Homo sapiens: one gene and its partners. The protein of the gene in region 2 purifies or fractionates together with the protein of the main gene of each other region. This does not show direct contact. Each region holds a gene or a part of one and is shown on either strand. Other genes may lie near its edges.

Region 1 (7,356 bases), on a different chromosome or scaffold from region 2:
TAGTGGTTCCTTCAGGAGCTCTTGTAAGGTAGGCCTGTTGGTGACAAAATAGCTCAGCATTTGCTTGTCTGTAAAGGATTTTATTTCTCCTTAGCTTACGAAGCTTAGTTTGGCTGGATATGAAATTCTGGTTTGAAAATTCTTTTCTTTAAGTGTGTTGAATATTGGCATCCACTCTCTTCTGGCTTGTAGCAGTTCTGCAGAGAGATCCACTGTCAGTCTGATGGGCTTTCCTTTGTGGGTAACCCAACCTTTCTCTCTGGCTGCCCTTAACATTTTTTTCCTTCATTCCAACCTTGGTGAATCTGATGATTATGTGTCTTGGGGTTGCTCTTCTTGAGGAGTATCTTTGTGGTGTTCCCTGCATTTCCTGAATTTGAATGTTGGCCTGTCTTGCTAAGTTGGGGAAGTTCTCCTGGATAATATCCTGAAAAGTGTTTTCCAACTTGGTTCCATTCTCCCCGTCACTTTCAGGTACAACAATCAAACGTAGGTTTGGTCTTTTCACATAGTCCCATATTTCTTGGAGGCTTTGTTCATTCCCTTTCATTCTTTTTCTCTAATCTTGTTTTCACACTTTATTTCATTAAGTTGATCTTCAATCTCTGATATCCTTTCTTCCGCTTGATTGATTCAGCTATTGATACTTGTGTATGCTTCACGAATTTCTCATGCTGTGTTTTTCAGCTCCATCAGGTCATTTATGTTCTTCTCTAAACTGGTTATTCTAGTTAGCAATTCCTATAACCTTTTTTCAAGGTTCTTAACTTCCTCTTATTGGGTTAGAACATGCTCCTTTAGCTTGGAGGAGTTTGTTATTACCCACCTTCTGAAGCCTACTTCTGTCAGTTTGTCAGACTCATTCTCCATTCCAGTTTTGTTCCCTTGATGGTGAGGAATTGTGATCCTTTGAAGGAGAAGAGGTGCTCTGGTTTTTGGAATTTTCAGCCTTTTTGTGCTGGTTTTTCCTCATCTTTGTGGATTTATCTACCTTTGGTCTTTGATGTTGGTGACCTTGGGATAAGGTTTTTGTGTGGACGTCTTTTTTGTTGATATTGATGCTATTCGTTTCTGTTCGTTAGTTTTCCTTTTAATAGTCAGGCCCCTCTGCTTCAGGTCTTTTGGACTTTGCTGGCGGTCCACTCCAAACCGTGTTTGCTCGCGTATCACCAGCAGAGGCTGCAGAACAGCAAAGAACAGCCTGTTCCTTCCTCTGGAAGCTTTGTCCCAGAGGGGCACCTGCCGGATGCCAGTCAGAGCTCTCCTGTATGAAGTGTCTGTCGACCACTGCTGGGAGGTGTCTCCCAGTCAGGAGGCACAGGGGTCAGGGACCCACTTGAGGAACCATTCTGTCCCTTAGCAGAGCTCGAATGCTGTGCTGGGAGATCTGCTGTTCTCTTCGGAGCTGGCAGGCAAGAACATTTAAGTCTGCTGAAGCTGCACCCACAGCTGCCCCTTTCCCCAGGTGCTCTATCCCAGGGAGATGGGAGTTTTATCTACAAGCCCCTGACTGGATCTGCTGCCTTTCTCTGAGATATGCCCTGCCCAGAGTGGAGGAATCTAGAGAGAAAGTCTGGCTACAGTGGCTTTGTGGAGCTGCAGTGGGCTCTGCTCGGTTCAAACTTCCCAGTGGCTTTCTTTACACTGTCAGGGGAAAATCATCTACTCAAGCCTCAGTAATGGCGGATGCCCCTCCCCTCAACAAGCTCCAGCATCCCAGGTCGACTTCAGACTGCTGTGCTGGCAGCAAGAATTTCAAGCCAGTGGATCTTAGCTTGTTGGGCTCCATGGGGGTGGAATCCCCTGAGCTAGACCACTTGGCTTCCTGGCTTCAGCCCCCATTCCAGGGGAGTGAGCAGTTACGTCTCACTGGCATTCCAGGAGCCACTGAGGTATGAAAGAAACCTTCTGCAGGTATCTCAGTGTCTGCCCAAATGGCCGCCCAGTTTTGTGCTTGAAACCCAGGGCTCTGGTGGCATAGGCACCCAAGGGACTTTCCTGGTCTGTTGTTTGTGAAGACCATGGGAAAAGCATAGTATCTGGGCTGGAATGTACTGTTCCTCACAGCACAGTCCCTCATGGTTTCCCTTGGCTAGGGGAGGGAGTTCCCCAATCCCTTGCGCTCCCTGGGTGAGGTGACGCCCCACCCTGCTTCAGCTCGCCCTCTGTAGGCTGCACCCACTGTCTAACCAGTCCCAATGAGATAAGCTGGGTACCTCAGTCGGAAATGCAGAAATCACCTGCCTTCTGCATTGATCTTGCTGGGAGCTGCATACTGGAGCTGTTCCTATTCAGCCATCTTGCCCAGGTCCCCCGGCATGTTTTTTTTTTTTTTTTTTTAATTGAGATGGAGTCTCGTTTTGCCCAGGCTGGAGTGCAGTGGCATGATATCAGCTCACTGCAACATCTGCCTCCTAGGTTCAAGCAATTCTCCTGCCTCAGCCTCCTGAGTAGCTGGGATTACAGGTGCCTGCCACCACGCCTGGCTAATTTTTTTATTTTTAGTAGAGATGGGGTTTCGCCATGTTGGCCAGGCTGGTCTTGAACGCATGACCCCAAGTGATCTGCCCATCTCAGCCTCCCAAAGTGTTGGGATTACAAGCTTCAGCCACCAAGCCCGGCCTCTACATGGCATTTAAAGGTGAATTTATTATTTTAAAATAGGTTATTTGCAACTACCCCTCTTTCCCACAAAACATCATCTGGTAAGGTGGCTAGACATAAGAACCTAAGTGAATTAGAATTACTTTCTGAAAACTCATTGAAGATCTCTGTGTTAATTGGAGCTATTCAGGTACATGACTAGAATTGGAAATCCCTGGCCTGTTTGAACTTTGAAAGTTCTACATTTTAGAGATGAGAGAGACATGTTTTTATAATGTTCTACATTTCTGACCCTGAGTGCTGATTTGGGTGAATAGACCATTGGCTTTACCCATAGGAACCTGGCTGCCTGAGTCAGCAACATCTGCTCTCTGGAGCCTACTGGGAGGCTGGGGGTGGGGGAGGAAGATGGTCTAGGCCACTGAGTGGGGCAGCAGAGCCTGGGGACTAGGAGTGGTGAAAATCAGCCACATTGAACATATGGGTGTCTTCTCAAGGAAATGTGACATATGCGAGAGAAAATGGAGTCTAGAAGGGATGAGGAAGAGGTGATCAAGGGAGTGAGGGGTTCTTGGAGCCAAGGTTCCCTGATTAAGGCTAGTCAGGGTGGGCCTGCATTTCCCCACCCCAAATGCCCGCAATACTCCTGTAGACAACTCTTAGGAAATTCAGCACTTCATTATACACTGCTTCCACTGGAAAATCCTGCCACGTAAGCAGCTTTGGGTCCCAGCTAGATTGGAGATGATCAGTAAGGAACCCTAATGCTACCAACACAAGACAACTAAGAAAAGTGCAAATATTCATGAAAATCGTTGCCAACTGTTTTGTAATCCTCACCACAATCCTGCAAGGTGGACAGCAGCATCCTCACCACTTTTCAGACAGGTAAACAAAGGCTCAGAAAGGAAACAGTACCTGGTTGGAATCAGCACTGAAGCTTCAGCTACCTGCCTGCAGAGATGTGCTCATCTAGCAGTTTCTAGGAGACTAGGCTGGCGGCAGTGCCTGCTCTGATAAGGGAGGAGGAGGGGAGAGGCTTGCTGTGGTGGCTTGTAGGGGGTGTGTGTGTGTGTGTGTGTGTGTGTGTGTGTGTGTCTATTTGTGGGGTCATTTCCAGGGCTACATGTGAGTTTAAGTGTGTGTATATGGGTTGAGATATGGTGTATATGGATATTTGTCGGTCAGTTCTTGGAAAGTGTGTATATGAGTGTGTGTTGAGTGGGGTTGGGGGGTTAGTCCCTGAGCCGTGTGAATATGTGGATGGGGGCACTCGTGAGGGCAAATGGGCTCGGATTTTGTGCATGATTGTGTGTGTGTGTGTGTGTGTGTGAGCTTGAGATTCCAAGTATGTGGGGGAGGGAGGGGGCGGTGTCGGAGATCAATCCCTGGGCCATGTGTTTATAGTGTGTGTGTCTGCCCAGAAGAGAGTGGGTTACTGGGCTGTGCACGTCTGTGTAGGGTGAGTGTGTGTATGAGGGTGAATGAGTGTGGGAGGTGTCATTCCCTGGTCCGTGTGTAAGAGTGTGACCGCGCACGCCTTCGTGTGTGTCCCGGGTGTGTGGGGTCGGGGCGGTGACGAGGTGAGGGGGACGCCGGCCGAGCCCCGCCCTCCGCTGCAGGTGGGCCGGCCCCGCGGCGGGGCCGGCAGCGCTAGCTGTTCTTGGCTCGCGGCCGCGCCGGGCTCGCAGGGCTGGGCTCGGGCTGCGGGGCGGCGCCGGGACAGGAAGCGGAAAGCAGCAGTGCAGCGGCGGCGGCGGCGGGGCTCTGCCTCTCCAGGAGCCCAGCGCAGGCCGCAGAGCCGGGGCCGCTGTGAGCCGAGACCGCGGGCCGCGGAGCTCGGGCGGCCGGCGCGGAGGTGAGTCCCGCGAGAGGCCGAGCGCTGCGCGGCGGCGGTCCCCGGGGCAGACCGTTGGCTGGGAGACGCCCCCACCTCGGACCCCGCGTGCCCCTGCGCCCTCCTCCCGCATTCGCCCCGCCGGACTTCGACCCCGGGTGGCCGGCTCCCGCCTCGGGCCGGGGGCTCCCTCCCCTCCTCCGGAGCGCTCCGGGTAGTGCTTCCTCTGACTCCACTCTTCTCCCCATGCGTTGCGCCCCTCCTGGCCCTGCCGTGCGATCTCCGCCGCACCCCACTCCTTGGGGTCCCGGGGTTCCCTGCTCACACCTCGGACGTCCCTTTCTCCCCGGGCTGGCCTTTGGAGTGCGCCCCTTCGGTGCGCGTGCCGGGGCGGCGGGCAGGCCGGCAGGGAGTGGCCGAGCGTTGGAGGCACCGGGCGGCTGCAGCAGCCGTGCAGGGCGGGAGCCGGGCGCGCACCGGGGTTCCCACCCCTGGCGGGGCTCGACCCGGGCGCCGCCTGGCCCTTCGCCAGGAACCGGGACAGAGCTGGTCTGTGTGCACACCTCGCTCACAAAAAATTGAGCCGGCCCTGGAGGCCTGGGGGGCGAGTCCGGTTGCGCCTCGGAGAGCGCAACAGGCAGGTAGGAGTTTACTTTCAAAAACGCCGGGGTGGAGCAGAGGCGCCTGGCGGGTCTCTGCCCAAGGTGTCCCTGCTGGAGGAAATCTCACCGCGCCGGGGCAGCCTTCGCCACCGGCAGGACCTCATTTCCTTCTGCAGTCTTTGAACTGCCCCAAGCATCGCGCCTAGAGAAGTGTGAAGCTTTATAAAAATTTAAACGCGTCCGTGGTGGCGGCAGCAGTGGGGCGGAGCCGCGGCCTGGCTGCTGTGTGATGAGCAGATGAGACTTGGAGCTGAGGAATCTGTTGCTCAGTTTTCACTTCTCCAAACCAGGTCTAATGCCCACGCTGCGAAGGTGTTGTGAGCTCTCTTAGATTCTCCTTAGGAAGTGTTAGAGCGCCTTATGATGATGATTGTGTAGATGGCCCATGCATTTTGTTAAAACTCTTGACCTGGCTTTGGTTAGAAATGAATGTATTCTTAGACACTTAGTCCAAAAGCTAACAAACTGTAAAAGAATCTGGCATTTTCACTGACATGTTTATAAATTTTACGGGGCTGCTGAAAAATATTATAACTTGTATCACCAGTCAACAATGCTAATTAGCATTCTCCCGTCAGTGGGTGGGTTGAGTACACAGCTCCCAGGCTCTGCAAGTGAGATGGCAGAAATTGTCTGAATACAGGGAGAGGTAATTAGCCATTTTCTGTAACCACTAATTATAGAGTTTTTAGGGTTGAATTAAATCAATGTGATATAGTTGGGGCTTTGATTTGTGGGAGGAAACTGTTTCTTTTTCCAGTTCAAAGAAATAACACGCTTCACCTATCCATGAGCATTAAACATTCCCAAACGTTGATGTCTCTCAGTATAATTAGTGAAAACACTCAGTGTGGAATTTCACTATTAACAATGTTGGCAGTGAGGCTTGCTTGCAACTTAATTTGTAAGTAAAATGGGAGAAGAATTTTGAGAGTGATATATTTGTAAGGACTGCTTGCCAAGCAGTACATTTTTATTGTCTTATGTATTAAGCAACAGGACAAAACCATAAAGGAAATTTAAAGTTTCTTTACCAAGCAACAATTCCATGTCACCCTTTGTTTGAAGGATAAATGTGTTGAATGAAGAAGGCATCCTCCCCTTCATCATCCCCTTAACACACTTATATACACACACTGTGCTTGCTACCCTAGGCCTTATCAGCTATTTTGGTGGGATGGGCCCTTGTCACATTGTGTTTTAATTGGAGGTCTCCACATTGGGGCTGTGAGCTCATTGGGAGTTAGAACTATTTTAGATCCATTTCTTTTCTCCTGAGTGCCCCACGATGCTTGGAACACTGAACCTGTGAGTAGAAGTTGAAATTGCAAAATTCTTAGTGGGGTTATATGTGGTTTGGGACAATTTGTGATTGTTGCTTATACTCCTCTATATAAACAAACAATTCTAGTAATTGCTACAGTGCTGTCAATTTTCTGTAGCTAAGAACACAGGTTCTGGAGTTAGACTCTCAACGTTTAAGCCCTGGCTCCTGTGGCAGTCTGGTTTCCCTAACTAACATGATATTAATGTCTTATTTTTCTTAAACACTTGTTATGCGGATTAAGTGAGATATTACATGTAAGTGACTTAAAACAGCATCTAACACATAGTAAACACTTGACAACTAGAAACTGTTAGACTATTACCATCATCTCTGTAAAATCAGCTAGCTGGTTAGGGTCTCGCTGTATAGGGCATGTGATTTGGGCATCATGCTATTCTATTTTCCTTAAGATGGAAAAGATTAGGTGGGCTTGTGATTGGACCATGTTTCTGTTAGCAATATTGGTTTGGTGTTAGCAGTATTGGTTTGATGTTAGCAGTATTGAAGTTTGATGCAAGGATACATGTGTGTGCTGTTGTCTCTAGCAGTGTCCTTCTGAATCCCAGTTACAGGACAACAGTGATCAGACTCTGTACCATCAGATTTACAGAGGAGATAGTACTCATGAGATCTATTTTTCTGAAGTTTAAATATCTGGCAGGGAACAAGGGAGTCACTTGCAAGCAAATATACATCACATAACTCCAGACATGTTAACGATTCACACCTCTTCAGAAATCTGTACCCAGCTGCTGGAGGTGTTTCAGGGGTAATTAATGACTGGAGCCAAGAGAAGTTATTCTGGCAAGGTGAGTTGAAATCATTGGCGAAACAAGTAAAACAAAGTTGACATTTTCTTTCCTTGTAAATAATGACCCAGAATCATTCATTTATAAGCTGTTGTAATAAAAGAATCATTGGGTTTG
Region 2 (7,021 bases):
CTTCTCTATTCTTGAATTGTGAGATTGTGGAAATTGGAATCCAGTCTTATCATCATCTCTAAGTGATACCAGATAACTTGGCTTTGCAAGCTCCCATGCAGGATTCTTTTGTCTGTGTGACATAAGTATTAAAATGTGTCCTGCCTTATAAAGAATGTGAATTCCATATTCTCACTTGGTATCAGTGAGAAATATTCCCATATTTCTATTTGCAACATAGAAGATAATGCATCATGTCCTTCTGGGGCATGGCAAGTTCTAAATGAATTCCTGGCAGAGCAATGGATTCTGTGATTGTCTATGTGGTGTAGTTGTTGCTAAGAGGATGCTATTGTAATCTTTTCTACCTATACTTCTTCATTGGCTCAGAATGAAGCAAGGCATGTGCTGCTTTCTTATATGTCATTTATGCCATAAATCCCATTGTTAGAAGGTAATGCTTCTAACGGATTCCATTCATGCTTTTGAGATAAATGGCATTGACTTTCATATTGATCACATGGAAAGCTGTTACCTGATTCCTTTCCTGAGATCACTTCCAGCCTAATGTGCATTTGGCTGGAATATGGTTGTCTCAGAATAACATCATGCACTCGGGCTTTTATACTTCTGCCTTTAGGGGACTGTGGCAGCATGGCATGGGTCAAGAAGTACTTCTCCTTCATCTTCCTTTGATGTCGGTAACTCATCCTTTCTGCACTGCGGGAGTTGTTAATGCTTTTGTGTCCTCCAGTTCACATGCTGATTGCTAAGAAGAAAATGAGCATGAGTGAACCCAAAGCTGCTGAAACATTCTGCGTTTATGCAACTTCCTTGCCCTCTATACAAGGAAGATGGTTTCATTGTCTTGTCTAGAGAATAAAGTCTTTTTTAAAAATAAAATCGGTGTATCCCTGACCAAGCGTCCATTAACACTTTGACAATTGCTCAAACTGCATGGTCACAGCAGCCTCAGCTCATACCAGCCATCCAATGCAAGGAAGGACAACACCAAGCCCAGAGGACAGTTCCTGGACTGATTTCTTCAACCCAATCTCACACCCCATGGGACGAGGTCATCAAGCAGGAAGAAGGATGGGTAATAGCCTCTGAGATTTTTATATATTATGTTTTTTGAAATCCACTGAGTGACTGCTGACTATTTTTCTAGAAATATGCCCTTGGTTTTAGACCAAACTACTTTCCTGAAGGACCTGAGGTTCTTCAAAAATTAGTTTTCTTGGTAGGAGTGATACTCATATTCACCTGAATATGAAGTTCTGAGCTGAAAGTAAGGAATTTAGCAGGAGGGTTGGCAAAAGAAAAAACTTATTGTCAAAATATATCTGTGTGAGGCAGTAAGTAATAGATATGAAATGAATGTTGCCAACAATAAACGCTAAAGAAATTCTGAGAACCCCTCCCTGCCCACCACAGCATCACAGAAAGGTGAATTGGACTTGGTTTATGAAAAATAAAAAAACCCTGGATAGTCAGAGAAAGGAAGTGGGTGGTGGGGGTTGGTGGGGGGGGCAGTTTTCCTAAGAAGGAGACTCCTGTAAGGAGAAACGTGAAGGAAGAAAAGCCAAGGAATGAATATGTCAGTGAGTGGATCCATTTTTCACAAGGGAAGATGTGTTTGAATGGCTAGGCAGGGGCCATTATGTTGAGTGACTGAAGTACCACAGGCAGACCCAGCACACATGAGTTTGCACATGGCAGCTGGAGCTCTGAGGACACCCATGGGGGAAAACCAAGCCAGGCAAAGATCTTCAGAATCAATATTAATTCTATGTACTGATGAAGAGAAAGAGATTCCATTAAATTAATGAACATGTCAAGGACAATACAATTGGCTTCAACTACACAATGGTATGATGACTCTTGAAGGACTCTACTTATAAGAGGGAAGATGAACAAGAGTCTAGAGCCCATCATCAAGTGGGACTTTTTCTGGGAGAATGTCCATTTGTGGTTTTGATTCAGGTTAGCACTTGCTCTTGTTTGAAATCTGGGATAACAGGGTCACCACATTTTTGTCCTACAAAGATCTTTAATATTTTAGTGTTGAATATTTAGTGTTGAATCTTGAATATTTAGTGTTGAAAGGCTGCAGTGCAGACCTGGGTACCCAGTATTCTGGTGCTTCACTGGGACTGATTAAATCTCCCCCAGAGGCAGTGATGTGGATAGACTTTGACTGAATTGACAGCCAGAAATATCGATGGGGTTTATGAATTGTTTGGCCTCTGTTTCACTCAAGACTTCTTATTTCAGCAGAGTAGATCTGTGATAACTGTTAAAAACAACATTTACAAGTATTTCAGTGAAATTTCTGCACTACTCAACATTGTACATGTTAAATTTTAAAGACCGCTTATACTTGGGTTTTTGGGAAGAATAATTCAATGACGTCCACTGCTTCTTATTTCTTGCCCCTGTATACTTTCTGTAACTCCACCTAGGTGGTCTTGGATGACGATTCTGTTTATTTGCATATTCACTTTGTGAAGAAAAAAAGACTAAAGGGGGGAAGAGGGCTATTTTTAAAAGTCCCTTTGGTTGGTAAGGGGGAGGGGATAAAATGGTGCCTGAGCCAGCACACTTTGTCTTTTCTCCATGTGTCAGATTGCATGTTTCTATAAAAAAGGCAATGTTTCTGTCTCTCTGCAAGATTTGGGTGTTCCATCATGCACTCATGTGGAGTCCTTCCAGACTCAGCAAAAACAAACACACAGCATAGCTTTCATATAACTCGGCCCTTCAAGGAAAGCCAGTTACTTGTTGTGGTGCTCTTTGATGAAACAATAATCTATCTCAGTTCGGGAGATATAGTCAGTATGTGCTTTCTTTCCTCTTGGCCAGATGTGAATATTTAAAAAAATCAGCTGTAGACCATAAGCCACCTTCAGGTAGTGGTTTGGGAAATCAAGCAATAACACTAATATTGATTCCTTCAGATATGGACTCCAGTCATAGTATAACGCTTCAGCCTACTGCAAATCCAAACACAGGTTTGGTGGAAGATTTGGACAGGACAGGACCTCTTTCAATGACAACGCGTAAGAATAACGATGCTCAGCCACTTTATTGACTTGTATTCCTGCTTCATCTCTTACTCGCTATTGGCCAAGATGCAGAGCTTTGGTGGTGGAATGGTGCTATGTGGCTTACTTCAGCCCAGAGTGTGAAACTGTCTTCATTGTCTGTATTTCTTGTGGAGGTCTCTCAACCTGATTTTCCCTTCATTTCTTTGTGCCTTCCAGATTTAATGACTTTGTGTTTTAAGAAAAAGTAGGACTCTATTCAACTCCATTTTCATTCTCTAAGTAGTTATGTCAGTGAAACACATGCCCACTTCCAGGATAGTGATTTCTCTATGTTTTAACTGACCATTTCCTTTCAATGTCCATCTTTCCTCCAGCCAGTGCAGAAGAGGGGTAGGATTGCTTGCATGGTTGTAAAAAGACATTTTTGGGGCCAGATAATCCTAGAGATCACATCAGTTCTCAGAGGAGAGGCAAGGCATGTTATTGACAATCAACAAAGGTGGCGGGATCCCTGGAACAACAACAACAACAAAACATTGCTAGTATCTCTTTCTATCACTAAGAAATGTTCAAATTCTAGTAGCCTTAATTTCTACTCTATGTGCAGGGATGTCCTAGAGATCAGCCTAAAGTCGTTCATAATTTCTTTGAGGAATACAAAAGAAATCTAGAATTAAGAAGGTCCCATTTTACTGCTTGCCACACATAATGGGCAGAGTCCTTCATATGAGCCCTTTAGGCAAAGGAAAAAAATCAGCAAGCATGTATTGATGGTCAGCAATGTAAATAGCACAGCGTTAAGCATCAAAGGAGATGCAAATAAGCCTATGAATGGTCCTTGCCAAAGAAGGACTTATATTTCCGTTTTATGTCACTGTTGGCTTTTGTTCTGACATTGGGTTTGGGATTTAGTGACTGTCTTTCTCCTGGTTGTAATATTTATTCGGTGGTGGGCATGGCTTATGGGTGTGCTTTATGAAGTTTTTGCACCTGCAACTCAGGTCAGTACCTTTCTTAAAAGAACACAAAAGAAATAAACTTGAAACAGTCCAAGTGATTTTAGATATGGGCAATGGGTCAACCTCCAGTTGATATATGTCACTGAGGGCCCTGTGTTTGCCCAGGCAAGCGTTTCCTTGGTGCAGTGATGAAAATCCCAATGCACAGGTGAAATTAAGAAATAACTTAATAATGGAGTAAAATGGTAACTTTAATTTAATGACCTTTACAAGGTAGCTAAGTATTTCCTTGTATAAATTTGATCTGTGTTACTTGAGTAGGCTATTCTAGATAGGCTTCTTTTTCTTTTGTGGTTACAACTAGACTACAGGCTATCATAGTGTTCATTTTCCCTGCCGTCACATTTCTTGACACACAGTTAGGTGCTTTTGGTTACTGATAGGAGCATTGGGATTCAAATATTCTTTTTTCCATGTCTCTGTGTTCTCTGGTTTTCTGGAGTGACTGGGAGCAATGCTGCAATTGAGCCTGGACAATCCAGGATAGGCAAAGTTTTGGCTCAGTCTTCACCTTGCCACTTTACCTTTGATGATTATACTGAGAAATAAAGGGTCTTCAGAACCAAATAGGGGCAAAATAGAATTCTTCTGTATATTTCTATCAATCAGAGGAGAATTGTGTGCACAAACCTTGGTCTTCCTATGCACCTATCCATCTGACTCTACTCTAGCTAGATTTTCCTTGCTAGCAGATAACAGGATTTGTACCGTAGCTTCAAATTAACACTGGATTCATTCCTCATTGAAACAGAGCAGAGTAATTCTCAGAGCTTCTCTACATCACATGAAGGCTTGGAAGAAGATAAAGACCATCCAACAACTTCTACTCTGACATCAAGCAGTAAGGATTATAAAACCTAGTTGGCTTCAGCTATTGATAAGAATCAATCAATTATGGGTACTTTTGCAGTGTCTTTGGTGGAGGTGCATCCATTAGCTGCCGTTACACTGTTACTTTTAATCAAAAGGTGCGTCTGGTGGTGGTTCTCTGATTTTTCTGTTTTATATACCTCTTCGTACATTAAGTGCAAACTACATTTCTTCATCTTAAAAGTTGGGTTTCTTTCACTCTAGAGTTAGTGATTTGTTTTAACAATAATGGATTGCTTATATATGATTTATTTTATTTATTTATTTTTGTTAACTTGAGATCTTTCTAACTTTTTTATGTGGGCGTTTAAATTTAGTGCTATAAATTTCCCTCTTACTACTGCCTTAGCTGTGTCCCAGAGATTCTGATATGTTGTATCTTTGTTCTTATTAGTTTCAAAGAACTTCTTGATTTCTGCATTAATTTCATTATTTACCCAGAAGTCATTCAGGAGCAGGTTATTTAATTTCCATGTAATTGTATGGTTTTGAGTGAGTTTCTTAGTCTTGATTTCAAATTTGATTGCGCTGTGGTCCAATAGACTGTTTGCTATGATTTCAGTTCTTTTGCAGTGTGATTTATAATTGGCGTAAATGTCTGATTATATCACTTTACATTCCTCACAATAATATTGTTTTGCCTTTTGTCCTCTGGACCTCCATGGTGCTGATGACTAAAAAGCAGTCCCTTCTGGAAAAGAAAAGAATAATTAAATTAGTAGCCTCAGGCCTTTGAAACCATGCATTTGCTATTTTAATTGCAGGCAGCAAAATTTTATCTTTCAATCCAATGATATGTTTCCTCCACTACATCAAAGATGAATCCAATTGAGAAAGAACTCAAGATTATCTAGTACCTCAGCTGACTTCAAGATCACAGTTGTAGTGACATAGCCTTACCTAATAACCCAAGCAGATGTTGCAACAAATGCCAATTCTGGGTATTAAGATCACCAAAATCTCTTCTGTTGAGTGATGTCCAAGTAGTGTCTATTGCAAAATATTTATTCTGTTCAATAGTATGACAAACTTCACTCTATTTCTCCCTATTTATGGATAACAAGTGGAAAGCTTTTGCAGCAATTGTGTGTTCTGGAGACAAGCACATGGTGGGTGGTGATCTTACAAATACGGGTTCATCACTGATTCCACCTCCACACAGATAGGAATGATGTCACAGGTGGAAGAAGAGACCCAAATCATTCTGAAGGCTCAACTACTTTACTGGAAGGTTATACCTCTCATTACCCACACACGAAGGAAAGCAGGACCTTCATCCCAGTGACCTCAGCTAAGACTGGGTCCTTTGGAGTTACTGCAGTTACTGTTGGAGATTCCAACTCTAATGTCAATCGTTCCTTATCAGGTAATTTGGCATTTATTATCTAGTTTGCTTTCTCTATATAGAGAAACAATATATAGTTTCATATTACAGAGGACATTTTCTGTGTAGTCTGGGATTGGACTAGTTTGTGATATGGAAATATCTTTCATTATTGGTTATCAATTCTAGTGCAAATAAACTTGGGTATATTTTAGATAAAAGAATGCTTCCTTTTGCCAGTGTTTTTTCCATTTGTCTGTGTTTGCATGTGTGTGTGTGTGTGTGTGTGTGTGTGTGTTGTGTGTACAAGTTGGCTGTTATGATGGAATTGCTTTCTTTGTCTTATCTTGTGATATATGAAGTTGAACCACATGAAACTGATATTTTTGCAGGTGAAAGTAGTCGAATTTTAGCAATTCCGTTTAATTCGACTAATATACTCTACTTATTTTGTAAGGTTTTATCCTACAGGTGAATAATTTCTATATACTAGTATCTTTGCTCTGAAATTATTATCTTGTTTTGGTAATAGATTGATCAGTTTTACTTTTGGTGATGGATAAACCTCTTCTAGTTCTGATGCACACTTAAAATGTTCATGATTTAATCTAGTATTAATGAATAGGGACCACTTCTCTTATTGTAATAGTGAAGAGAGGAACGAAGATAATTTATTCAATGAAGTTTGACACGGACCTAGAATAAGTCTTTTTTTTTCTCAAATAAGTAGTCATCTCTGCTTCTGCTTTTCTTTGCTTCTCCATTTGTATTAAGAAATT
Region 3 (7,021 bases), on a different chromosome or scaffold from region 2:
CAAGTGGACTTCAAAAGTCCAAAGCATTTGATTAAAAAAAAAAAAAAAAAAAAAGAATCACTGCTTCAAATGGAATGTTCTATTTGTGTTTAACCCACTCCCTCCAGGACTGGAGCAGGGGTTGTGAGTGGAGACAGTGGCCAATGACCTACAGAGCAGTTTTAGCACCAGCAGCAAAGAGAAGAGAAGGGAGGGCCAGTATATCTCTGAGACAGCTAAGCTAGGGGAGGATGAGGTCTAACTCTGGGACAAAGAGGTAAACAACTTTCCCAGCTTCTGGTTCCTTCCTGTTGCGAGATCCACTGGAGATTTAGGCAATTACCTTCCCTGGATTAATGGAGCATTCAGGGACAATGAATGTCTGGGAGTGAGAGGAAAAAGGAAGAAAATGCCATTACTCCTCGTCCTCATATGGCTTAGAATTTATATATGGCATTTGTTTTTCCAACTCTTCGTAAGAGATGCTCTTATCATGCACCCCATTTGCCAGAAAGATCGTACGTAACTCAGGACACAGGGCTAAGACTGGGAAACGCTTGGTGGAAAGGCTCTGGTTTCGGGCAATGAAAAGGCAGGGGTCCAAATGCCTTCCTTGTGTAGCTGACCCCAAAGCCCCAGTGACGTTGCTCTCAAAGCTTATTACAGACCAGCACCACCCATCCCTGCAGCCCTCTGTTCCCAGCTCACCTCCACTTTGTGACCTCTGTTACTAGTCCTGGGGGATGTGGCTAGATCCCTACTGAGATGGAGTGTGTGTGCCTGAAGCGTGAGGAATGATCCCATTCGGGGGCAACTGAGCCTGCCCACAGGAACTTGAGCCCCCGAGACAGTGGTCTCCTTCCCAGTAGACTGGCCCACGAAGACTGGTGCCATGATTACCTTCAAGATCTGGACATAAGGCAGGTTGTCTGGGCCAATCTTGCTCCCATTCACCTCGATGTGCTTTAGCCACTGGATGTGCGGCTGCGGGTCACTGTACACCTTACACATGAACTCCACGTTGCTACCCAGGGCCACTGTTTTGTTGGCGGGCAACCCTGCTTGCAGGATGGGCCGGTGAGGGGACCGCTCTGTGGAAGATGGGAGAGGAGGCACTTGTCATGGGGACCTTGCCATGGCTAAAGAGGGGTGGGCTCACCTGCGCCCCACTTGGCTTTCCCAGTGATGGGTTGTAAACCTCCCAGCACTTCTGCTGAGCCCAAGCCTCTCAAAACAGAGCTGGGGAAAGGGACACCCTCTCTTCAGGCCCTAAGCCATCAGGATCCTCCTCCCCAAGGCAGTCATCATATTTACAGTCACAGTAAGTCGCTCATGCTTTAATGGAGAACCTTCTAATTCAGTTGCACCCCCAGACCTCAGCACAACCTGCTCCTCCTTAAAAAACCAGAGTCACTTTGACTCCTGCTATTCAAAGTGTGGTCCACGAGCAGTGCTACCAGCATCCCCTAGGAGCTTGTTAGAAACGCGGAATCTCAGATCTTACCCCAACCTCTTGGATCAGAATCTCCTTTTTACCTTTTTTTTTTTTAAAGGCAGGGTCTCACTCTGTCACCCATGCTGGAGCACAAGGGTGTCATCATAGCTCACTGCAGCTTCGAATTCCTGGGCTCAAGTGATCTTCCCACCTCAGTAGCCTCAGTTAACTCAGCTGGTACTACAAGTACATGACACTGCACTAGGCTAATTTTTAAATTTTTTTATAGAGACAGGGTCTCACTGTGTTGCCCAGGCTGGTCTCACACTCCTGGCCTCAAGCAATCCTCCAGCCTTGGCCTCCTAAAGTGATGGGATCACAGGCGTGAGTAATCCCATCATGCCACCTGGAGCTCATAAGCCACTGCTCCTGGCCACAATCTCCTTCTTAGACCATATCATCATAATCAAGAAGAACACTGGCTGAGAGATTCTGTACCCAATGATCTCTAGGGAGTGAGTTTCAGAACTCCTAGAAGGAAAAGGTTGCGGTAATAGCTCCAAGAGGCTCAATGTTCTTCCCAGAGTCTCCTGTGATGCCCTGAAGTTGGCACAGGTGTGCAGTTCTGCATTAGCAAGGTGTCTGACCTCTCTGAGCCTATGCGCCTGTGCTCCTGTGCAGGGCTAGACTAATACTGCCCACCTTGCAGGTGTGCCATGAGCATTACAGGGCAGGTATTTAAGGAGCCTGGCATCTTGCTAGCATTAAGCGACAGCTCCTATTACGCTACATTTAACACCTCTCCAACAACGCCTCCTTCAGGACAGACTCTGAACAGCACCTTCAATTTCACAGTGACAACCAGCTTTGACCGTGTTACTGTCTGATCTTAACTCTATTTTACAGATAAGAAAAGTGAGGCTCAAAAGGGAGAAGTGACCTGCTCAAGGTGACAAAGCCAAGAAGTGCCAATCGCTATCCTGACTCTGCCCCTAAGAAACCTGGACACCCCGGCTGTGTTCTCCAAGCCTGGCTCTTCCCACTAAACTCATTCCTCCTGCTGCCTCTGCCCTCTTACCCACGACATCCAGCTGGTATGTGTGGTTGATGCTGCCGTACTCATTCTCCACAATGCAGGTGTAGTTGCCCTTGTCAGAGGGCACCACAGAGTCCATTATGATGCTCCAGGTGGCATAACGGACCTGAGGGGAAATGCCAAAGGGATACATTGAGGGTCCAGAGGAAAATGCAGGCCCCATGACAATGTCGGCACCCCGTGGCACCTGCCCTCCATATCAGAGCCTGGTGGCACAGGGCCCCAGGCTGCAGGGTTGGCTAGGACAAGGCGTGGATTGCCCCCCTACCAGCCCGTTCACACTCTGCAAGCTGGCAGATGGGGTGTAAAGACTCCAGAAGTCTCCACTGTGACGTTCAAGATCATTCGTGATCCGGACAGATGTGCCTTCTGCAAACACTCCCAAATACACCAAGAATGTTCCCAACTGTGCACCTCTCCTATTACACTAAGAATCCAGCCCCCACTGTCCTTGACAGCTCATTTCAAAAACCATCTCCTCCAGTCCAGTCTCTGGTCAGAACTGTGCTCACCCTTTCCTCTCTGCCTACCAAAGCACTGATCACAGTCTACTTTTTACGGTAGCTGCTCATGGACATTTGCCTCCTATCAGACTGCAAAATTTTTATGGGCAGGAACGCTATCTTGCAGCATTTAAAGCATGGTGTCTTGCATGTAGTGAGTGCATGGTGAATTAATTTAAAATATTTCTGGCTGGGTGCGGTGGCTCAAGCCTGTAATCCCAGCTCTTTGGGAGGCCCAGGCGGACAGATCACTTGAGGTCATGAGTTCAAGACCAGCCTGGCCAACATGGGGAAACCCCGTCTCTACTAAAAATACAAAAATTAGCTGGGAATGGTGGCTGCACATCCCAGGTACTCGGGAGGCTGAGGCAGGAGAATGGCATGAACCTGGGAGGTGGAGCTTGCAGTGAGCCAAGATGGCACCACTGCACTCCAGCCTGGGTGACAGAGTGAGACTCCGTCTAAAAAAAAAAAAAAAATGCTTACACCCTTTAAGTTAGTAATTTCACTTGTAACAATCTGTCCTAAGGAAGCACGCTTAAAAAAATGCTGACAGAGATTCACTGCAACATTATTTATTATGGTGAAAAACCAGAAAATACCTAATATCACAAAATAGTTCATTAAATTATAGGACTTTTTCTGTTGTTTTTTGGAGACAGAGTCTCACTCTGTCACCCAGGCTAGAGTGAAATGACGTGATCTCAGCTCACTGCAACCTCTGTCTCCTGGGTTCAAGCAATCTCCTGCTTCAGCCTCCCCAGTAGCTGGGATTACAGGAGCCTGCCACCACACATGGCTAATTTTTTGTATTTTTAGTACAGAGGAGGTTTCGCCATGTTGCCCAGGCTGGTCTCGAACTCCTGAGCTCAGGCAATCCGCCCACCTCGGCCTCCCAAAGTGATAGGATTTTAGGCGTGAGCCACCATGCCCAGCCAAATTATGGGATTTTAAAATAATGGAATCTTATACAGTCATGAAAAATTATGTTTCAAATATTCATGCTTGAAATATATCAGGAAAAGACTCATGTTAACAAATGACAAGGCAAGGAAATTACATACATGATGTGATCAACTATGTAAAAACCATATTACAGAAAGAAGACTGAAGAAATGTTTAAACTTTATTTGCATTTTTTTGTATTTAAAAATTTTAATGAATAACCTGTATAGGTGGAAAGTATTACTTAAAAAAATGAAAAGCATGTAATCAGGACTTCCTAACTCGGCCTCCCCTGTTCCCATTACTCTAACTTTCGCATGCACACACACGTACCTTGTAGCCTCCAATTCTGTGGTCAGGTTTGAATTCTTTGCCATTTTTCAACCAGCGCAGTGTGGGGTTTGGGGTCCCACTGGAAGGGCATTTGAACTTCACTGTCTTGGCAGCCGGCACTGCATGCAATTTCTTTTCCATCTTTTCTGGGGATGTCCAATATGGAGCTACGGCTGCCCGGGGAAAGCCAAGAGAGACAGGCAGGGTGGAGAGGAGCAGCTGGTCAGGCTCAGGAGCAGGGCCCAGGCCAGGACCTGGAGGTGTCTTGCCCATCTGCCCAACACCTGTGAGCAGTGCCTGGCACTTAGCAGAACAGGCACCGTGACCCCATGTGCCCTCCTCTTCCTCCCCTTTCAGCCTTCCCCTCCCCTCTTAAACCCAATGCCCAGACCCAAAGGGCAGTAAGATAGGAAACAGTGTCTCACGCATACGGTTTGGTTTGGTGTTATCTGTTTCTTTCTCCTCTGAAGAGGAGTCATCATCATCATCATCATCCTCCGAGGAGGGGAGAGCATCTATGGGAAGAAGAAGGGGCACTGAGGTTCCTCCTAGGGACCCCTAGATTTCACCAAGGCTAGTGCAGTTCCAGATGAACACGGACACCCTCCCCATGGGGATCCCAGTCCCACTGCTCCCTTAGTGATGATCTCTTGGTGGGATGGAAACTGTTTAAGAACAGTTCCTGTGCGTGTTTGCTTCCTTCCCCGAAGCACTGCCCCCACTGCCTGGAAGCCTTCACACTGGGTGGTTCCATCAGGGTCAGCTGTTCCTATTTAACTTAATTCCGTCCTACATTCAAAGGCGCTTTCTCAACTTGTGGTGCCACCTGGGTGTGCTGGAGCCAGGCAACCTGTATTCTTCTTTGGACGGCTGACTATAGGGAAACCCAGGCAGGTCTAGACACACTGTGGCTAGATGCTATTTCCAAAGGATGGGCTAAACACCCCACAGTCAGAATTTTTCTAGCATGTGTCTACTAAGGTTTGGGGGCTGCCCTCCTTAATCAGAGCAGATAGGGCACCCACCACCCCAGCAGCTGCCAACACCTCTCCCCAATAAGTATTTATTTCTTGTAAGAACACGCTTGATACACATGTGGTCACCCATCAGGGTTCATGCCAGATCTTTCTCCAGTCCTTCCTATCACCTTTGGGGATCTGCTGCCAAGTCCACACCCTGAGGTGCATAAATGGCATAAAGAAAATTTCAGCTCCACTTCCTCAACTCCTAGTTTTGTGAAAGTCACATTCTAAGAGTGGCAAGTTCCCAAGTTCACAGAGCTCCAGGGCTCCCTGGCTGCCCTCGCACAGCTCCCTTGCGGTGCACCTGGGTTCCTCTCCAGCAGAGCAGGGATACCACCACCTGTTCAGGGCCTCTAATCACTAAGCCGAGTACCAAGTCCAAATGGCAAGGGAGTGATGGAGTGGAAGCTGGCCGAGCACCACTTAGCCTCCTGGAGATCTGGGCAAGCTGTGGTGGAAAAAAATCACAGGGTCTTAACATCCCAAGAGCCCTGGCAATCACCTCCGAGGTGTGTCCTGGAAGCCCCAGATCTCCGGCCCTGGGGCCCACCCCACCTAGTCACCTCTCTGAGAGCCAAGCCACGCGGCAGGCAGGGAGCAATGTTAGTGGGCAGCAGTTTCTGAAGCAGAGTGGGGGCAGATCACGGAGGGGGAGGAGGTTCACCTTCCTCTGAAACTGGCAGAGAGGGCTGGAGGGGGTGGGTCTAGGGAGGGGCAAGGGCAGGGCTTGGCTACCAACCTGAAACATTGACGGAGAAGTAGGTGGTGTCACTGCCCGAGGGGCTGCTGGTTACGCAAGCATAGAGGCCGGAGTCTGCGGGCACGGAGTCCTGCACCTCCACCTCCTCCCCTGTGATGCGGGTGCGGTTGCTTTCCGCCAGCTGCACCCCGTCCCGCAGCCAGTTGATGCTCTGCACATCGTCCCGCAGCCGACAGCGAAGCTGCAGCAGGTCACCGGGGTGGACCAGGAAGGACTCCACTTCCACAGGGGCTCCCCAGGGCTGGGCTGCAGCCACCACGGGGCCGGGAAGGGAAGCCAAGGGGCGAGAGAGGAAGACAGGGAGAGGGGAGGAGGGGAGAGACAAAGGGAATTACGCTGGCCACACGGAGCCGCACCATCCTGGGCATCACTTACTGGAGGCTACTGAGCCAGGGCAGTGGGAATTGGAGCATGGGTCAGTGGGGAAAACAGCTGGCTGCCTGGGAACCCCCATCTCTTTTCCACCCCACTCCTCCAAAAGTCAAAGGAAGAAAGAGGCAAAGTTAGGAAGCAGCTGTAGCAGCATTAAGCGCATTTCATTTCCCCCATCCTAAGGGGAAAGGTCGGCCCTCCCCAGGACTTCTTTGTGTCCGGAGTTGCCCCCTCCCCAGATGCTCAGTTCTTTGCCAAGATTGCCACTTGCCAGAGGAACACCCCATTTCCTTTGGGATAGCTCAGCCTCACCCTTCCCTAGCAACAGCTGAACAAACCCCGCCCCTCAAAACCCCAGCAGCCCCTGCCCAAGTCGAGAGAAGGCAATTTGTCAACTGGGGGCTGACCAGGATGCGTGTGATTCGGAGAGGGTGGGGGTCTGGCCCTCGACGCGTCAGATGCACATGCTGGGGGGGCAGCCCAAGGAGAGGTCAGCTCAGGGAACCTCTCGCTAACAGGTGTCAGGGCAGGGGATTTGGAGCTGTTGACTATATTAGGACGGGAGGCCACAGCTGC
Region 4 (7,967 bases), on a different chromosome or scaffold from region 2:
GCGGGCACCAGGCTGCCGCGGAAGGGGGACTGAGGACTGGCAGAGCTGCCGGCGCCGGACCCTGCGACAACCGGGGTCCCCCAGGACAGTAGGCCCGGCTCTGCCCGTAGCCCTGAGAATTAAACGCCGGCTCTCCCTGCAGTGGTTTGGGCTCCGGGCTGTGAGCTCCTCTGTCCATTTCTGTCTCCCCCGGGTCCTCACCCCCCTCTCCCTCCACCCGCCCTCCTGCCTCTCCAGTTAGTCCGCTCCTCGCCGCCCTTCCCAAGGAACACGAACCAATACTCTGCATCTGGAGGAGGGGAGGTCAGGTTTAATGTCCCAGTCCTCGGGCGCTGTCCAGCGCCTGCCAGGCCCCACGGCCGTGTCGCTCACTCGGGTGGCGGCCGACCCGCCTCATCAGGGCCTTCCGCGGAGGCCGTCCCGTCGTCCTCGGGCACCAGCTCCACGTCCAGCTCCAGCTGCCCCATGTAGAGGCCCACGGCGCACGCCCAGAGCAGGCTGGCGGCCAGCACGGCGCCCGCGCCCACGGCCGCGCCCCCCAGCGTCAGCTGCATGGGTCCTCGCAGCGCCGCCAGGCCCACGGCGTACGAGGCGCTGCCCCACACCACGCACAGGCCGCCCAGCAGGAAGAAGCCTGCGGGAGAGGCAGGGTAGCAACAGGGCCAAGGTCGGGGGATGGTCTGGGAGCAAAGCCAGGGTTGAGGAGACAGGAACAGAGGCAGGGCCGTGCCAGGGGCTAGCCTGCATCTTTGAGAATCAGATCGGAGGGGAGGGGACCATAACCATGTCCTGGGCCACCCATTCAGATGGACCTAGTGCCTATGGGAGGGGTGTCTTCTGGTGGGGGAAGAATGGGGGTTCTATACTTACTACTGGGAGTGGGATGGGGTAGGAGAGTCTACTCTCACCAGGGCAGGTGATAGGGGCTCTGCATTCCCTGGTTCCGTGGGGCGAGAGGGGGGGTCTGCACTCACCATATGCTGCTTCCCGACCCATGTCACTCTGCATGAAGGAGATGACCCCGATGCCCGATGCCAGGAGGCCATTGCGGAACCAGGAGAGGAAGGCTGGAGGGAGGGGGACATGGGGGGATTAACATCACCCCCAACCCTACCTCCTCAATCCCCCTTACCCAGTCAAACTGAGGGGCCTCCCTTCAGCTCACCCCATCCCATCCAGCCGCAAGGCAAGCCCATCCCAAATCCTCACCTCTTCCAGGAAGCCGCTCACCTAACCATATCCCCCCACATCCTCTCTGGCCTCCACCTCAGTGCCCCTCTCCCCCAAACTCTGTAACACTAAGGATTCAAGGGCCGGGTGTGGTGGCTCACCCCTGTAATCCCAGCACTTTGGGAGGCCAAGGCAGGCGGATCATGAGGTCAGGAGTTTGAGACCAGCCTGGCCAACATAGTCAAACCCTGTCTCTACTAAAAATGTTAAAATTAGCAGGGTGTGGTAGCACGTGCTTGTAGTCCCAGCTACTCAGGAAGCTGAGGGAGGAGAATCACTTGAATCCAGGAGGTAGAGGTTGCAGCGAGCCAAGATCATGCCACTGCACTCCAGCCTGGGCGACAGAGTGAGACTCCGTCTCAAAAAAAATAAAGGATTCAAGATAGTCCCTGCAGAATGTGGAGGACAATCTAGGGGCAAAGTTGCAGAACCTCCATCTGAGGAGTCATCTTGGCCAAACCCCTCCCTCTACGTGTACCCCCACGGCCTGCCCACTCACTTCTTTCTCAGAACTCTGGGACAAACTGTTTCCTAATCCAGGCCGCTCTTCAGCCTCGCCCTTCTTTTCCTTCAAATGCCGCCATCTCCTACCGAGTATGGCCTGGGCCAATCCCATCCATGTCCTACCGAGTATGGCCTGGGCCAATCCCACCCACGTCCGTCCCCATTCACGTCCTTTACAAACAGCCCACCACACCCTATATCTAGATGCCCGGTCCTGGCCTAGTGAGGTGACTCACACCTATAATCCCAGCACTTTGGGAAGCCAAGGCAGGAGGATTCTCTGAGCCCAAGAGTTCAGACCAGCCTGGGCAACAAAGCAAGACCCCGTCTCTACATAAATTAAAATAGTTGGGTGCGGTGGTGTATGCCTGTAGCTCCAGCTAAGCAGGAGGCTGAGGCAAGAGGATAGCTTGAGCCCAGGAGTTCAAGGCTGCAGTGGGCTACGATTGCGCCACTGCGGTCCAGCCTCGGTGACAGAGCAAGACACCGTCATTAAAAAAATAAAATTAAAAAAAAAACAAACATGGCCAGTCCGCTCCATTCTGGACCTCGCCTCCGTCACAAGCCCCGCCCTCTGCAGCCTAGATCACCTCCCCCTCCAATCAGCAGAGAGCTTTCTCCCGATTGGTTGTCCCCTTCTCCAATCCTGAACTTCCCCCTCTTCTGCGGGGATCCACACTCCCGCTCTCTGCACAGTGGTGGCCTCTGCAATCGGGATGGACCCATCTTGTACCCAACTCCACAGACCCTAAGCTCTCCCTGAAGCCCCTCTCCCCACGGCAGGCGCGATTCTACGAGGCTGCCTCGCGCAACCCTACCACCCCCTCCAATCCCTACGGCGCCCCGTTACCCGGGGTCCTCGTCCTCCCCGCAAGCCCATCCCCTCTGCGGGCACCTGCGCTCTTGCAGTCTGCGCTTCCGTGCGCTCACACTGAAGCCCTTCTCGGAGCCGAGCCCGGGCCCCGTTTCCTGCAGAAGCCCCCGCCCCATCAAGGTCCCACGCGAGCCCGGGACCCCCGTCCCATCCGCACCGCCCCCACCCCTAGCCACCGACCTGTCTCGTGCGCTTTTCGGAGGAGCCAGGCGTCCGCACGATCCAGCTCGGACACTGGGGGCGGCGAAGCCCCGGCGCGGGGACCGTGGCCGGGGGCGAAGGACCCCCGGGCGCCCCCGCTCCGGGGCCGCTGAGGCGGCAGTAGCGACCTCCGGAAGCGAAGACGGGCAAGGCGAGCGGCCCGAGCCCACCACCAGCCGCCTCCCATGATTCGCACTACGGCCGCCGCGCGCCGTACCGCCCCACCGGCCTCCGGTAGGTTGCAACCCATGTCACTCAGGATGAATGGCTTACCCATTGGCTATGCGCTCGCCACTCAGGTCCGGCGTGAACTGTCCATTGGTCGGAATGGCAGTGATTCCCTCCTCTGTCATCTAGGCCGGTAGTGCCCGTCCCTCCTTGATTTTGTACCGGACTACGAATCCCAGCGATCATTGCGCTCGGGGAAAGCCGATATTCAGAAGTCGCAGGCGAGATGTCTGCTGGGAATTGTAGTTTTAATTCTATCTTTTTTAACGGAGTACATGCCGAGCACCTATTGTAGTTGTTTCTTGGTTGTTTCTCTTTCTTTCTTTCTCTTTCTTTCTTTCTTTCTTTTTCTTTCTTTCTCTTTCTTTCTTTCCTTCTTTCTTTCTTTCTCTCTTTCTTTTTCCCTCCCTCCCTCCCTTCCCTCCCCTCCTTCCTTCCTTCCCTCCTTCCTTTTTTTTCCCCGCCCCGAGACCGAGTCTTGCTCTGTCGCCCAGGCTGGAGTGCAGTGGTGCGATCTCGGCTCACTGCAACCTCCACCTCCCGGGTTCAAGCGATTCTCCTGCGTCAGCCTCCTGAGTAGCTGGGATTATAGGCATGCGCCACCACGCCCAGCTAATTTTTGTATCTTTAGTAGAGACAGGGTTTCACCATGTTGGCCAGGCTGGTCTCGAACTCCTGACCTCAAGTGATCCAACCGCCTCGGCCTCCAAAAGTGCTGGGATTACAGGCGTGAGCCACCGTGCCCGGCCAGGTCTGTCTCTTTAAGACAGATTTGTTTTCTTTGCCCTAACCCATTCCGGGATTCAGCTTTGCCTTCTCTCATCAGCATAAACCTTTTCACTAGCCAGGAATGTGAAAAATGTGTCTGGAATATTTTCAATTTGCACTTAATCCCATTTAAAGCTTCACATTCATTGCAAGCCTGCAGGCTATGCAGTGCAGTCCATTTGAACTCCCTCCTCAAGTGTAACCCCCTTGCTAGCTCCCCTACTTTTCCTCTTCATAAAATCCAAGCCCGGGCCAGGCACGGTGGCTCACATCTGTAATCCCACCACTTTGGGAGTCTGAGGCGGGCAGATCACGAGATCAGGAGTTCGAGACCAGCCTGACCAACATGGTGAAACCCCATCTCTACTAAAAATACAAAAATTAGGCATGGTGGCAGGCACCTGTAATCCCAGCTACTTGTGAGGCTGAGGCAGGAGAATCGTTTCATGCGCGTCCATGTGAAGAGACCACCAAACAGGCTTTGTGTGAGCAAGATGGCTGTTTATTTCACCTGGCTGCAGGCAGGCTGAGTCCGAAAAGAGAGTCAGCAAAGGGTGGTGGATTATCATTAGTTCTTAGAGGTTTTGGGATAGGCGGTGAAGTTAAGAGCAATGTTTTGCGGGCAGGGGTGGATCTCACACAGTACATTCTCAAGGGTGGGGAGAATTACAAAGAACCTTCTTAAGGGTGGGGGAGATTACAAAGTACATTGATCAGTTAGGTGGGGCAGGAACAAATCACAATGGTGGAATGTCATCAGTTAAGGCTATTTTTACTTCTTTTGTGGATCTTCAGTTACTTCAGGCCATCTGGATGTATACGTGCAAGTCACAGGTGATGCGATGGCTTGGCTTGGGCTCAGAGGCCTGACATTTCTGCCTTCTTTTATTAATAAGAAAAATAAAACAAAATAGTGTTGAAGTCTTGGGGGGTGGTATGGAGAGAGAATGGGCGATGTTTCTCGGGGCTGCTTCAAGCAGGATTAGGGGCGGCGTGCGAACCTAAAGTGGGAGAGATTAAGCTGAAGGAAGATTTTGTGGTAAGGGGTGATATTGTGGGGTTGTTAGAAGAAACATTTGTTGTGTAGAAGTATTGGTGATGGCCTGGGTACAGTTTTGTATGAATTGAAAAACTAAATGGAATAAGAGAAGGAGAAAAACAGGTATAAAAGGTCTAAGAATTGGGAGGACCTAGGACATCTGATTAGAGAGTGCCTAAGGAGATTCAGCATAGTCCTGCCAGCAAAGATTATTTGTTTACTTCAGGAGTTAAGAGTGGCAGTTTGGGGATAGCATGAGGAGATATCAGCTGTGATGGCTTGGAGAAACAGTGTAAACCAGCAGTGTAAACAAGAGCAGGGCACGTATGAGTAGTTGAGAACGGAGAATAGGAGTATGACTAGACAGAAAATAGTAGGGATGACAAGTTTTTTTGGGGCACAGTCTAAGTTGGTCCGGTGTCTGGAATGAGACTGGGGCCTAATAAAAAGGATTGTCCATACAGGAGCTCAAATAGGCTGTACCCTGCAGCATTCTGAGAAGCAAAAGAGGTAAAAGTATTGTCCAGTCCTTTTTAAGTTGGTGGCTGAGCTTGGTGAGGTGTGTTTTTAAAAGACCTTTAGTCCGTTCTACTTTTCTTGAAGACAGAGGACCGTAAGGGATATAAAGGTTTCACTGAATACTAAGAGCCTGAAAAACTGCTTGGCTGATTTGACTAATAAAGGCTGGTCTGTTATCAGACTGTATAGAGGTGGGAAGGCTAAACTGAGGAATTATGTCTGACAGAAGGGAAGAAATGACTGCGGTGGCCTTCTCAGACCTTGTAGAAAAGGCCTGTACCTATCCAGTGAAAGTGTCTGCCTAGACTAAGAGGTATTTTGGTTTCCTGACTCGGGGCATGTTGAGTAAAGCTAATTTGCCAGTCCTGGGTGGGGGCAAATCCCTGAGCTTGATGTGTAGGGAAGGGAGGGGGCCTGAATAATCCCTGAGGAGTAGTAGAACAGCAGATGGAACACTGAGAAGTGATTTCCTTGAGGACAGATTTCCACGATGGAAAGGAAATGAGAGGTTCTAAGAGGCGGGCTCATGGCTTGTACTATAGCATAGCCTGCCTTTGCTGGTGTGTGGCGATTAGGCCTGGTGGAACTGCCATCAATAAATCAAGCGTGATCAGAGTGAGGAACAGGAAAGAAGGAAATATGGGGAAATGGGGTGAATATCAGGTGGATCAGAGAGATACAGTCATGGGGGTCAGGTGTGGTATCAGGAATAATGTGGGAGGCCAGATTGAAGTCCGGGCCAGGAACAATGGTAATTGTGGGACTTAAGAGTGAGTGCAGCTGAAGGAGCCGGGGAGCAGAAAGTACATGCGTCAGGTATGAGGAAGAAAATAGATTTTGGAAGTTATGAGAAATGTAGAGAGTGAGTTGAGCATAGTTTGTGATTTTTAGGGCTCTAAAAGTATTAAAGCAGCGGCAGCCGCTGCATGCAGACATGAGGGCTAGGCTAAAACAGTAAGGTCAAGTTGTTTGGACAGAAAGGCTACAGGGTGCGGTCCTGGCTCTTGTGTAAGAATTCTGACCACACTAACCATGCCTAGGAAGGAAAGGAGTTGTTTTGTAAGGGATTGAGGTTTGGGAGATTAATTGGACACGATCAGCAGGGAGAGCACGTGTGTTTTTATGAAGAATTATGCTGAGATAGGTAACAGATGAGGATGAAATTTGGGCTTGACTGAAGTAATGGGGGCTGTCTGTGAAGCCTTGCGGCAGTACAGCCCAGGTAATTTGCTGAGCCTAATGGGTGTCAGGGTCAGTCCAAGTGAAAGCGAAGAGAGGCTGGGATGACGGGTGCAAAGGAATAGTAAAGAAAGCATGTTTGAGATCCAGAACAGAATAATGGGTTGTGGAGGGAGGTATTGAGGATAGGAGAGTATATGGGTTTGGCACCATGGGGTGGATAGGCAAAACAATTTGGTTGATAAGGCACAGATCCTGAACTAACTTGTAAGGCTTGTCTGGTTTTAGGACAGGTAAAATGGGGGAATTGTAAGGAGAGTTTATAGGCTTAAAAGGCCTTACCCATTGAGCAGGGTAAGGGTGATTAGGTTTTAATGAGATGGTAAGGGGTGCATGATCGGTTGCCAAGGAAGGAGTAGAGGTATCTTATACTTGTGGGTTAAGGTGGGGGAATACAAGAGGAGGACGCAAAGGAGGCTTTGGATTGGGAAGAAGGGCAGCAATGAGATGTAGCTGTAATCCAGGAATAGTCAGGGAAGCAGATGATTTAGTTAAAGTGTCTCGGCCTAATAAGGGAACTGGGCAGGTGGAGATAACTAAAAGGAGTGCTTTAAAGAGTATCGTCTAAGTTGGCACCAGAGTTGGGGAGTTTTAAGAGGTTTAGAAGCCTGGCTGTCAATACCCACAACAGTTATGGAAGCAAGGGAAACAGGCCCTTGAAAAGAAGGTAATGTGGAGTGGGTAGCCTCTGTATTGATTAAGGGGACGGACTTATCTTCCACTGTGATAGTTACTCGAAGCTCGGCGTCTGTGATGGTCTACGGGGCTTTCGAGGTGATCGGGCAGCGTCAGTCTTCAGCCGCCAAGCCGAGAAGGAGTCAGTCGGAGAGCCTTGGGCCAGAGTTCCAGGGGCTCTGGGAGTGGCTGCCAGGTGAGTTGAACAGTCCGATTTTCAGTGGGGTCCCACACAGATGGGACGCGGCCTAGGAGGAATCCCAGGCTGCGGGCATTCCTTGGCCCAGTGGCCAAGATTTCCAGCATGTGTAGCAAGTTCCTGGGGGAGGAGGTTCTGGAGGAACGCCTGGCTGCTGCGGTTCGGGCGTTTGGAAGTTCTTGCGTGCTGGAGATGTGGCTGGGGTTTGTCTCACAGTGGAGGCAAGGAATTGCAACTTTTTTTCTGTTATTGTACACCTTGAAGGCGAGGTTAATTAAGTCCTGTTGTGGGGTTTGAGAGCCAGATTCCAATTTTTGGAGTTTTATTTAATGTCAGGAGCAGATTGGGTAATAAAATGTATATTGAGAATAAGACGGCCTTTTGACCTTTTAGGGTCTAGGGCTATAAAGCGTCTCAGGGTTGCTGTCAAACGAGCCATGTACTGGGCTGGATTTTTATATTTGAAGAAAAAGAGCCTAAACGCCATCTGA

What was found.
Region 1: the proteins of CD44 (region 2) and VANGL1 purify together in Homo sapiens (co-immunoprecipitation; 3 studies listed by BioGRID and IntAct, with this or other methods). This does not show direct contact.
Region 3: the proteins of CD44 (region 2) and FGFR1 purify together in Homo sapiens (affinity purification with mass spectrometry; 4 studies listed by BioGRID and IntAct, with this or other methods). This does not show direct contact.
Region 4: the proteins of CD44 (region 2) and TMEM160 purify together in Homo sapiens (co-immunoprecipitation; 3 studies listed by BioGRID and IntAct, with this or other methods). This does not show direct contact.

Annotation. Positions count from the first base shown.
Region 1 is NC_000001.11:115,637,625-115,644,980, forward strand, and holds the start of VANGL1 (vang-like protein 1), read left to right. Parts: upstream 1-4,345; 5' UTR 4,346-4,462; intron 4,463-5,004; exon of another isoform or gene 5,005-5,082; intron 5,083-7,356.
Region 2 is NC_000011.10:35,205,166-35,212,186, forward strand, and holds part of CD44 (CD44 antigen isoform 1 precursor), read left to right. Parts: intron 1-619; coding exon of another isoform or gene 620-675; exon of another isoform or gene 676-882; intron 883-946; coding exon 947-1,078; intron 1,079-2,939; coding exon 2,940-3,041; intron 3,042-4,452; exon of another isoform or gene 4,453-4,799; coding exon 4,800-4,889; exon of another isoform or gene 4,890-5,609; intron 5,610-6,080; coding exon 6,081-6,284; intron 6,285-7,021. UniProt on the Homo sapiens protein: Cell-surface receptor that plays a role in cell-cell interactions, cell adhesion and migration, helping them to sense and respond to changes in the tissue microenvironment.
Region 3 is NC_000008.11:38,423,630-38,430,650, forward strand, and holds part of FGFR1 (fibroblast growth factor receptor 1 isoform 1 precursor), read right to left. Parts: intron 6,320-7,021; coding exon 6,053-6,319; intron 4,807-6,052; coding exon 4,717-4,806; intron 4,465-4,716; coding exon 4,292-4,464; intron 2,617-4,291; coding exon 2,493-2,616; intron 1,071-2,492; coding exon 880-1,070; intron 1-879. UniProt on the Homo sapiens protein: Tyrosine-protein kinase that acts as a cell-surface receptor for fibroblast growth factors and plays an essential role in the regulation of embryonic development, cell proliferation, differentiation and migration.
Region 4 is NC_000019.10:47,045,619-47,053,585, forward strand, and holds TMEM160 (transmembrane protein 160 precursor), read right to left. Parts: upstream 3,007-7,967; 5' UTR 2,997-3,006; coding exon 2,789-2,996; intron 1,068-2,788; coding exon 975-1,067; intron 635-974; coding exon 369-634; 3' UTR 291-368; downstream 1-290. Other genes in the region: NPAS1 (neuronal PAS domain-containing protein 1), read left to right, coding at 1-33.